3 linked regions of the Homo sapiens genome follow. The protein of the gene in region 2 purifies or fractionates together with the protein of the main gene of each other region. This does not show direct contact. Each region holds a gene or a part of one and is shown on either strand. Other genes may lie near its edges.

What was found.
Region 1: the proteins of REEP3 (region 2) and ZC3H11A purify together in Homo sapiens (co-immunoprecipitation; one large-scale study listed by IntAct). This does not show direct contact.
Region 3: the proteins of REEP3 (region 2) and RAB3GAP2 purify together in Homo sapiens (affinity purification with mass spectrometry; one large-scale study listed by BioGRID and IntAct). This does not show direct contact.

Annotation. Positions count from the first base shown.
Region 1 is NC_000001.11:203,840,524-203,844,182, reverse strand, and holds part of ZC3H11A (zinc finger CCCH domain-containing protein 11A), read right to left. Parts: intron 1-3,659. UniProt on the Homo sapiens protein: Through its association with TREX complex components, may participate in the export and post-transcriptional coordination of selected mRNA transcripts, including those required to maintain the metabolic processes in embryonic cells.
Region 2 is NC_000010.11:63,594,351-63,598,009, reverse strand, and holds part of REEP3 (receptor expression-enhancing protein 3), read right to left. Parts: intron 3,233-3,659; coding exon 3,156-3,232; intron 2,007-3,155; exon of another isoform or gene 1,914-2,006; intron 1-1,913. UniProt on the Homo sapiens protein: Microtubule-binding protein required to ensure proper cell division and nuclear envelope reassembly by sequestering the endoplasmic reticulum away from chromosomes during mitosis.
Region 3 is NC_000001.11:220,147,705-220,150,524, forward strand, and holds the end of RAB3GAP2 (rab3 GTPase-activating protein non-catalytic subunit), read right to left. Parts: 3' UTR 589-2,820; downstream 1-588. UniProt on the Homo sapiens protein: Regulatory subunit of the Rab3 GTPase-activating (Rab3GAP) complex composed of RAB3GAP1 and RAB3GAP2, which has GTPase-activating protein (GAP) activity towards various Rab3 subfamily members (RAB3A, RAB3B, RAB3C and RAB3D), RAB5A and RAB43, and guanine nucleotide exchange factor (GEF) activity towards RAB18.

The sequences.
Region 1 (3,659 bases), on a different chromosome or scaffold from region 2:
CAAACAAAAATAAAAATAAAAAATAAAGGCGGGCACAGTGGCTCACGCCTGTAATCCCAGCACTTTGGGAGGCCAAAGTGGGCAGATCATCTGAGGTCGGGAGTTCGAGACCAGCCTGACCAACATGGAGAAGCCCCGTTTCTACTAAAAATACAAAATTAGCCGGGCGTGGTAGCGCATGCCTGTAATCCCAGCTACTCGGAAGGGTGAGGCAGGAGAATCACTTGAACCTGGGAGGCAGAGGTTGCAGTGAGCCGAGATCGCACCATTGCACTCCAGACTGGGCAACAAGAGCGAAACTCCATCTCAAAAAAAAAGAAGAAATCCCAGGCCGAGAATAAAGAAAAAAAAATAAGAGAACAAAGAAAGTTCTTGAAAAATAAAAACACCAAGTGCCAAAATAAATTCATATGAAGGACTGGATAATAAAGATAAGGCTGGCCCCAAATCAGCCATTTAAAAAGGCATAGGCAAACTATATATAGCCCATATGGCCACCACCTAATTTTGTAAATGAAGTTTTGCTAGAACACACCAGCAGTCATTCATTTACATATTGCATACATATGCATATGGCTGCTTTCATTCTACAATGGCAGAGTGGGGTAGCTGCAATACTGTGGACTGCAAAGTTATTTATATCCGACCCTTTACAGGAAAAAAATTGTCAATTCCTTGTCTAAAAAATAAAGTTGAACAAAGCTCACAGAAGGTTAGCCAAAAACAAAGAAACAAAAAGTATACAGAGACATGCAGGCATATGTCCCAAAGTTCCAACATCTATCTAATACAAATTTCACAAGGAGAAAACAAAAAGAAATGTGGGGCAGTCATACTCAAAAGAAATTAATGTTTTCTAGAGCTAAAGACAAATCTTTAGATTCAAGGGCCCACTGAATCAGTATTTATGTATTTACTGAATCAGTATTTATGATAAATACTGATTATCATAAATACTGATTTAGCAGAATGAACAAAAATGATCCATGTTTGATCCACAACAGTGAACCTGCAGCATACTAGGGAGAGATAAAACCCTAGAAATCTCTGAATAATTCAGGTTGCATACAACAGAATAAGAATGTCCAACATCGGACTCCCTTTTTATGATGCTAATATAACTTTAACATCCAAATGAGATAAGGATGGGGGATAAAAAGTAACCTAAGGTGGCTAACAGCATTCATAAATAGAGATGTAAAAATATAAAATTTTTAAAAGCCTCAAACTGAATTCAGCAAGGTATTAAAAAAAAAAAGACGGAAGGCTGAATACATGGATGTTCATTTTATTATTCCTTAAACTGTACATATATATACTTATGTAGTTATATTTCATAATTTAAAAAATTTAAAAATTATAACACAGAAAGAATATAAAGAAAACCTCAATACCCAGATGACACCAATTTTATTTATATTCTCGTGTATTTTTGAAGATTTTTTTAAAGGTATATGTTTATATCTTTACAAAATTAGAATAATCTCATACATATGCATGTTTCTCCTGAGAATAAGTTTCTATAATAAGAAAATAAACTTAAAAAAAAAAAAAAAAGATTCCCCCTCCCCCTCCCCCTCTCCCCGGTCTCCCTCTGATGCCACCAAAGTTGTGAAAGCCAAGGCTGGACTGTACTGCTGCCATCTCGGCTCACTGCAACCTCCCTGCCTGATTCTCCTGCCTCAGCCTGCAGAGTGCCTGGGATTGCAGGCGCGCGCCGCCACACTTGACTGGTGTTTGCATGTTTTGGTGGAGACGGGGTTTCGCCGTGTTGGCCGGGCTGGTCTCCAGCTCCTGACCGCGAGTGATCTGCCTGCCTCAGCCTCCCGAGGTGCCGGGATTGCAGACGGAGTCTCGCTCACTCAGTGCTCAATGTTGCCCAGGCTGGAGTGCAGTGGCGTGATCTCGGCTTGCTACAACCTCCACCTCCCAGCCGCCTGCCTTGCCTCCCAAAGTGCTGAGATTGCAGCCTCTGCCCGGCCGCCACCCCGTCTGGGAAGTGAGGAGCGTCTCTGCCTGGCCGCCCATCGTCTGGGATGTGAGGAGCCCTTCCGCCCAGCCGCCCAGTCTGGGAAGTGAGGAGCGCCTCTTCCCAGCCGCCATCCCGTCTAGGAAGTGAGGAGTGTCTCTGCCCGGCCGCCCATCGTCTGAGATGTGGGGAGCGCCTCTGCCCTGCCGCCCCGTCTGGGATGTGAGGAGCCCCTCTGCCCAGCCGCGGCCCCGTCTGGGAACTGAGGAGTGTCTCTGCCCGACCGCCACCCCATCTGGGAGGTGAGGAGCGTCTCTGCCCGGCCGCCCCGTCTGAGAAGTGAGGAGCCCCTCCGCCCGGCAGCCGCCCCGTCTGCGAAGTGAGGAGCCCCTCCGCCCGGCAGCCGCCCCGTCCGGGAGGGAGGTGGGGGGCGCCTCCACCCGGCCACTGCCCCGTCTGGGAGGTGGGGGGCGCCTCTGCCCGGCCGCCCTATCTGGGAAGTGAGGAGCCCCTCTGCCCAGCCACCACCCCGTCTGGGAGGTGTACCCAACAGCTCATTGAGAACGGGCCATGATGACAAAGGCGGTTTTGTCGAATAGAAAACGGGGAAATGTGGGGAAAAGAAAGAGAGATCAGATTGTTACTGTGTCTGTGTAGAAAGAAGTAGACATGGGAGACTCCATTTTGTTCTGTACTAAGAAAAATTCTTCTGCCTTGGGATGCTGTTAATCTATAACTTTACTCCCAACCCCGTGCTCTCTGAAACATGTGCTGTGTCCACACAGGGTTAAATTGATTAAGGGCGGTGCAAGATGTGCTTTGTTAAACAGATGCTTGAAGGCAGCATGCTCGTTAAGAGTCATCACCACTCCCTAATCTCAAGTACCCAGGGACACAAACACTGCAGAAGGCCGCAGGGTCCTCTGTCTAGGAAAACCACAGACCCTTGTTCACATGTTTATCTGCTGACCTTCCCTCCACTGTTGTCCTATGACCCTGCCAATCCCCCTCTCCGAGAAACACCCAAGAATGATCAATAAATACTAAAAAAAAAAATAAAAAAAAAAAAAAGATTCTTATGTTGCCCTAAATCAGGAGGTCAAAAGTGGTATGTGCTCTCTGTTATCTTTCTTCACTTGATACAATGCAAGTTGATTTTTCCATATCGTTGTTCAGCATTTGACTTTTCATGACAGCAATTATTTTAGCACATAACTATCATAATTTTATCTAAACCCTTTTTATTGTATATTTAAGTTGTTTCTAATTTCCTACTATTTAGCCGGGTGCGGTGGCTCGTGCCTGTAATCCCAGGATTTTGGGAGGCTGAGGCAGGTGGATCACCTAAGGTCAGGAGTTTGAGACCAGCCTGACCAACATGGTGAAACCCCGTCTCTACTAAAAATACAAATATTAGCAAGGCATGGTGGCGTACGCCTGTAATTCTAGCTACTCGGTAGGCTGAGGCAGGGGAATTGCTTGAACCCAGGAGGTGGAGGTTGCAGTGAGCTGAGACCTTGCCATTTAACTCCAGCCTGGGCAACAAGAGCAAAACTCTGTCTCAAAAATAAATAAAATAAATAAATAAATAAATAAATAAATAAATAATTTCCTACTATTAATGCTATGATGAACAATCATTTTACCATCTCTAAGCACAAAAAAGGAATTGATCCCAGTTGAGTCTGAG
Region 2 (3,659 bases):
ATTTGGAAATAAACTGCCAGTGAAAAACAAACCACTGTAGAAATCACAAAAACACCTTTTAAAAAGTTCAGTCACTATGCTGTTTTTTGTTTTTTTTTTTTTGAGATGGAGTTTTGCTCTTGTCATCTGAGTGCAATGGCACCATCTCGGCTCATTGCAACCTCCGCCTCCTGGGTTCAAGTGATTCTCCTGCCTCAGCCTCCCCAGTAGTTAGGATTACAGGTGCACGTCACCACTCCTGGCTAATTTTCATATTTTTAGTAGAGGCGGGGTTTCACCATGTTGTCCAGGCCTGGTCTTGAACTCCTGACCTCATGTGATCCGCCCACCTCGGCCTCCCAAAGTGGTGGGATTACAGGCGTGAGCCACAGCACCCAGCCTATGCTAAGTTTTTGAATGTAAAAGTCAGTGATCAGGAGACAACTGTGTTTGAATAATCTTGTTTCAACTATAGATCAGTTCATGAATGTGTGACCTGAGAGATTCCCCCCTCATTCTAATACAAGAATCTTCCTTTGTAGTAAGCATAGGAAAGCTGCCAAACTGAATGCAGCAGTTAAGAGAAGGCACTAATACCATTTATCCAGTGCACAAGGTATGGCCACCCTATCTGCAGAGCCAAACTGGCATGGAAGTACATGACCTATCTCATATGATAGTTGTGCCTATCAGAGAATGACTTCATATGCTCCAAGTGCACAATGTCTACCCCATACACACACGTCTTCATCTTTTTCAGAACTCCGAAAAAATATCCCTTCCAATTTCATTTGGCCAGAATTGCAGCACTCTGCAGACCTAAACTGTTCACTTCCAAGGAAAATACAAAGTGTTACAGTGGGCCTCCCCCGTTGGCCCAGTATACTTCCTCAACCAATGACTGTGGCTTTAACCATGTGACTTGCTTGCTTTGGCCAGCAGAAAAGAACATGATACATGTCACATGCAAGCAGAAGCTTTAGAACACCCTTCGACTCCCTCACTCCATTACCCATTACCCTCAAACTCTTGCTTTAAGCTTTTGCCTTCTGGCATGAGAACAGCTGCTTCTTCAGCCTTGGTTTAAGGTGCCAGGTGAGGTGCTCACGCCTGTAATCCCAGCACTTTGGGAGGCCAAACTGGGAGGATTGCTTCAGCCCAGGAGTTCAAGGGTGCGGTGAGCTATCATCATGCCATTGCACTCCAGCTTGGGCAATGGAGCAAGACCCTGTCTCTAAAACAACAACAGAAACAACAGCAAAAGTGACCTGACCCCAGCAAAGATGCAGTCAACCATTTGCCCTCATGTAGCTTGAGCAAGAAATAAAAGTTTGCTTTTCTAAGCCACTGTACTTTTATGGTTGTTTTTTTGCCACAGCAAAAGTTCACTAATATATAATGAGAGGCTCAGTATCTTGTTGTCTGTGAGAACCACATAAATGTAGTCCATTTATCACTAGGATAAATGATAGCTGAGCAAATTTGAGTTCTTCTGTCAAGGTGGGCAGGTAGAGAGCAGTGAGGATGACTTACTATGTAGTCAACAAAGAGGTCTCTGCCACACTGCAATTACAGGAGTTTCTGGATTCAGTTGTTCATGTTAAACATTTTCTACATCGTTCATTTTTAAATAACATATATAGGCTACATTTGCAATCAGAAAAAAATGAAGTCTTAAAAAGAGAACTTGGAAACTTCGATGTAGCACGGTTGGGGATCTGTGCTCTGTCACTTAAAAACAAAGAGACCCCCCACAACCAAACCCCTATACCAAAAATATAACAGATAAATGAATGAGCTTTGGGGCACAGGAAGGGAAATTTTTACAGTATTTCAAATCAGAAGACAGATACAGTGACGTTTGCAAATAAGGGAAGGTTGTTAAAAATATTTTAGTATGAAGACTTCTATTTTTTTTCTTGCAAATCCAATAGGACCTAATGTGCCACATGAACAGGAGAAGAGCAAAATGGGAAAGACAGCTTAAGGAGAGAATAGTAAAGGTTTGAAACAGACCCAGACAAAATGTAAGTAGACACTGACCAGGAGCAAGTAAAAAGAATGAGGTTCAAGCTGATACCTATGTGAGCAGCTGATTAATTTTTTCAGCTGAATTTAGCAGCCCAGTTAAAGAAGTAAAAAAGAGTCATTTTAGCTGGGTGCAATGGCTGATGCCTGCAATCCCAGCACTTCGGGAGACCGAGGCAGGCAGATCACCTGAGGTTGGGAGTTCGAGACCAGCCTGGCTAACATGGTGAAACCCCGTCTCTATTAAAAATACAAAAATTAGCCAGGCCATGGTGGCATGTGCCTGTAATCCCAGCTACTCGGGAGGCTGAGGCAGGAGAATCGCTTGAACCCGGGAGGTAGAGGTTGCAGTGAGCCGAGATCGTGCCACTGCACTCTAGCCTAGGCAACAGAGCAAGACCTTGTATAAAAAAAAAAAAGAAAAAAAAGACGAGTAATTGTTAGGCTAATTTAGACAGAAGGTTTGTGCGTCAAGGGCAGATGAAGATATCAGCAAGGTAGTAAACCAAAATATTTTGAAAGGAGAAGTTCTCAAAGTGATTGCAGGGTTTAGATGGAAATGCACTACTGAAATACACCACAGGGAGATTTGAGTTGTCCAGTTAAGTACTGCTCCTTGGTAAAATGTCAAATCCCTGAGGATATAAACACACTTTAATTTTGCCTCGTCTATTTGGAACAGAGCAGCCAGGAAGCTAGTGCTGAGTGGGTGTCCACGTGGGTGCTGACGTTTTCCAGTTCAAATGTTTGTAGATGAGAGTTTTAAGGATAGGATAGGGAGGGGTGCTAAAACCAGATGCTGTGGGCTTCAAAAGTGGAGTCATTTAGGAAGTGATACAGGAAAATGTTCTGAAGTCATCAGTGCAGAAAAGGATGATGACAATCAACTTTCCCTATTCCAAGATACTGGGGGAAGGTGTGTGGGAGGTGAGCAGGGAGCGGCGTATGGGGAGGAAAATGAGCTGCCTTTATTTGATGGGGACTAAAAGGAAAGTAGTGTTCTATGGGAAAGCAGATGACAAAAACAAATGGGTGGATAATTAGGTAACCTGATGAAAATCACTCAGTTAATAGCAAGAGCAGGATAAGAACTTAGGACACCTGATTATGAGTCTGTAGTCTGGCCCCTTCTCAATAGTAAAACTTACCAAGCAACTGTTTGATCGGCTACTGTTTCAATCACAGTATAGAGAGCAAAAACAATCCAGTACATCATCCATCGAACCTGGAAATAATAAAAATACTCATGAAACAACAGATGAAAATTATTTGCAACTCTGAATAATATGTATGTATGTATGTATTTCTGGATTTCATAATAATTTCATATTATGTATGTATTTCTGGATACATAGTATGTTGGGTCAAACGCAGAAAGTGATGGTTTAATTTTCAACAGGTTTTATGTTTGAGTTCTTTACATTACTACATCAACAGTCTTGGGATAGCAGGAGCAAAGATTAACAAATCTCTGGGACTTGATACAATATAATCTAGGAATCTAAATCAAGGAATTGGGAAAACAGGAAATATTTTTCTTAATTGGAAGAAAGTTCTTTAAAAGACGTTATCTACTTGCTTCTTTATGAAGACTATAAGTTATTTATTTATTTTTATTTTTTGTAGAGACAGGGTACGCTGAAGTGCAGTGG
Region 3 (2,820 bases), on a different chromosome or scaffold from region 2:
ATATAGGAAAGAAAGCCAAGATTTAGGTAATGAGTGGATGAGTAAATGGTGGAGGATGGGAGTCAAAATCAGAATTATAGAAGAAGTATTTCCTGTAACTATAGAAAGAATTATGTATATATACATGCAGAAATATATATGTGTGTGTGTATCTGTGGATGGATATATGTATATCTCTTCCTATATATATCCATAGTGGACTTATTCAGAACATAGATATGTATTCAGCTTGTCTTCAAATACGGCCAAGCAGAAAATGTTTTATATTTTATAAATCATCTTTTGACTCTGTATTTAAATTCTATGATACTGAAAATAAAGGCATTCTGGAAAAATACTGACTGATTTTGGTGCAGAAGTTTTGAGTATCAAGTAAAAGAAGTATAGTTTTGAAAGGGAATGGCGGAGGCCTGTTTCCCTTAAGAGGTGAAGGGTCATTTCATTCTTCCCATTAGTGAACATCAGCCTTTTCAGAATAGCTAGTTTTTGGGGTTGGATCAGAAAGAATATAATCACCAAATTTGTTACTCAAGAAAGGAAGAAATCTCTTAATAGTTAGTTATACTTATGAATGTTTAGGAAACAACATGAAAGCTGAAAATTTATTTCACTAATATACATAAGAAGTTCACAACAATGAACAGACAGAAAATAGCAGTATATACAGAATTTCACTACTTACAGTACATTACAATAGAGAAAGCATTTTATAAACAGTTCAGTATTGGATTAAAATCTTTTAAGGATGGCTAATTCTATTCAGCAGGAATCTAACTTCTAGACACCCAGCAAACCCATTCCTATCAGGGTGAGAGAGGGCTTTTGCTGTTGCTATAGTGTACTGTAAAAATATTTGTTCCTTATAAATGAAGTGGACCACAGCAACTTCTAAATGAACATTATATTCAGTGTAAGTCTCATATTATTAAATTTCAGATTTTTGACTTTTTAGATCGCAATTGTTTTTAAAAAGCAATTTAAATGTAACAGTGTTTACTTTGACCATAGATGAAGTTTTATAATAAAAGTAAAACTTTTTTTTTCTGTTTGCAAAAGTATGAAGCATTAAGAAGCATGGTGCTATATATCTCTTTATCTACATTTACCCTGGCCCCTCTAGTTCTGCATCTAAACAGAACCTGTAATGTAGAAGTTATGATTATTTGAACACTTTTTGTTTTCCTTCAGCATTATACAATATAATTTAATAAGATACAAATGCATATTTAATGTTTGTTAATGAAGAAAGTTGTGTGAGGGTGGGCATATATCTAGGAAAACACTACTGGTTACTGGCTTCTCATCAATAACTACAAAGTACCACATACCTTTGTTTCAGAAACCACCCATTCTACATTAAAATCTAATTCCTTTATCATCTATGGCTCTTTGTTATTATAGAATGTCTACATAGGTATTTATTTGCCTTTCTTCCTATCAATCAGATTTATTTATTTTAAAAGCCCTTGATAAGTAGTAAAATATTTAACTGCTTTTCTTAACCATACAAGTCAGAATTAGATTTTAAAATTCTATGAAAAATTTTAGGATAACAAATCTAACTAGAGACTTAATGATTTGTGTTAGGATTCTGTGAGCCATACTTCAGCTTATTATTGTTCTCAGCAATCCCCAGATTTGATTGTCTGTTCTACCAGAGTAAGCTTAACCAGTTTTATTATCTAAAATGCTTAATAAGTGCCCCCTCCCCGCCAAGTGATGATGGAATTGAGGATTTATTCTTTAAAAATACCTATAACTCCAAGTTTCTTTGACTAGCCTCCTTAAGTTCATACTACTACTTTCAGCGTACTTGGAAAAATCACAGGAAGAACTAATCTCTTAGAAAACATATAACAAGTGACTGTTAACACAGAGCCAGATATGTTTACAAGAATTCTAGGATGTGTGTGGCTGGGGCAGCGGAGACCCAAGCAGAGGCTGGGAGGTTGGACTAGCCCTTTCCAGTGCTGCTACTCTGTAAAATGTATGTCTCAATCAGACTCACAGGCCCCCATCCCAAATACTCAAGACATCTTAACCATTTATCTTGTAAGATTTCAAGTTTGATAGTTACTTAACAGTAATTACTAAATTTTAGCCAGTTAAATTCTTGTTTGGATGTGCTCTTTTAGCTCAAAAAACAGATTTGTTTTTCTTTTTATATCCCTGAAGGACATACTCCTCAACTTTGCATGATTACTATAGTTGGCTTCTTAAGGGGAAGTGAAGAAACAAACTTCTGTATCACAATGACTTACTATGAATAATAATTGTGATCCATGACAGATACCCATAATTACACTGTATGGCTACATTCTAAAAATATACCACAATAAATACTTGGTATTTGTAGAGCTCAAAGCACTCTTTTACAGAGTTTTGGTTAGTTTGGTTTTTTCTTTTTTTTTTTTTTTTCGAGACAGGGTCTTGCTATATTGCCCAGAATGGCCTCAAACTCCTGGGCTCAAGCGATCCTCCTCCAGCCTCCCGAGTAGCTATAGTTTGGTTTTAATCAGTAAATATTTATTTAGCACTTGGACTGCTCTAGGCACTATAGGGTACAAAATTAGTTGTATTTTATCCTCTCATCCCAGCTGTGAGGTAGGTTTGCTAAAGCTGTAATACCACTAAGCAGTTTTTTCAATACTGTTCCCAAGGACAGATAATATTAGCAAATCCCAGAAGCATTTCTAAACACTTGTAGGAAAAATAAAGTCGGACTTAAAATTTTTAGTATCTTTGCCTTTTTTTTTTTTTTTTTTTTACATAAGTTTTACAAGATAATACATTTTTACAGTGACCTGATGTGGATACAAC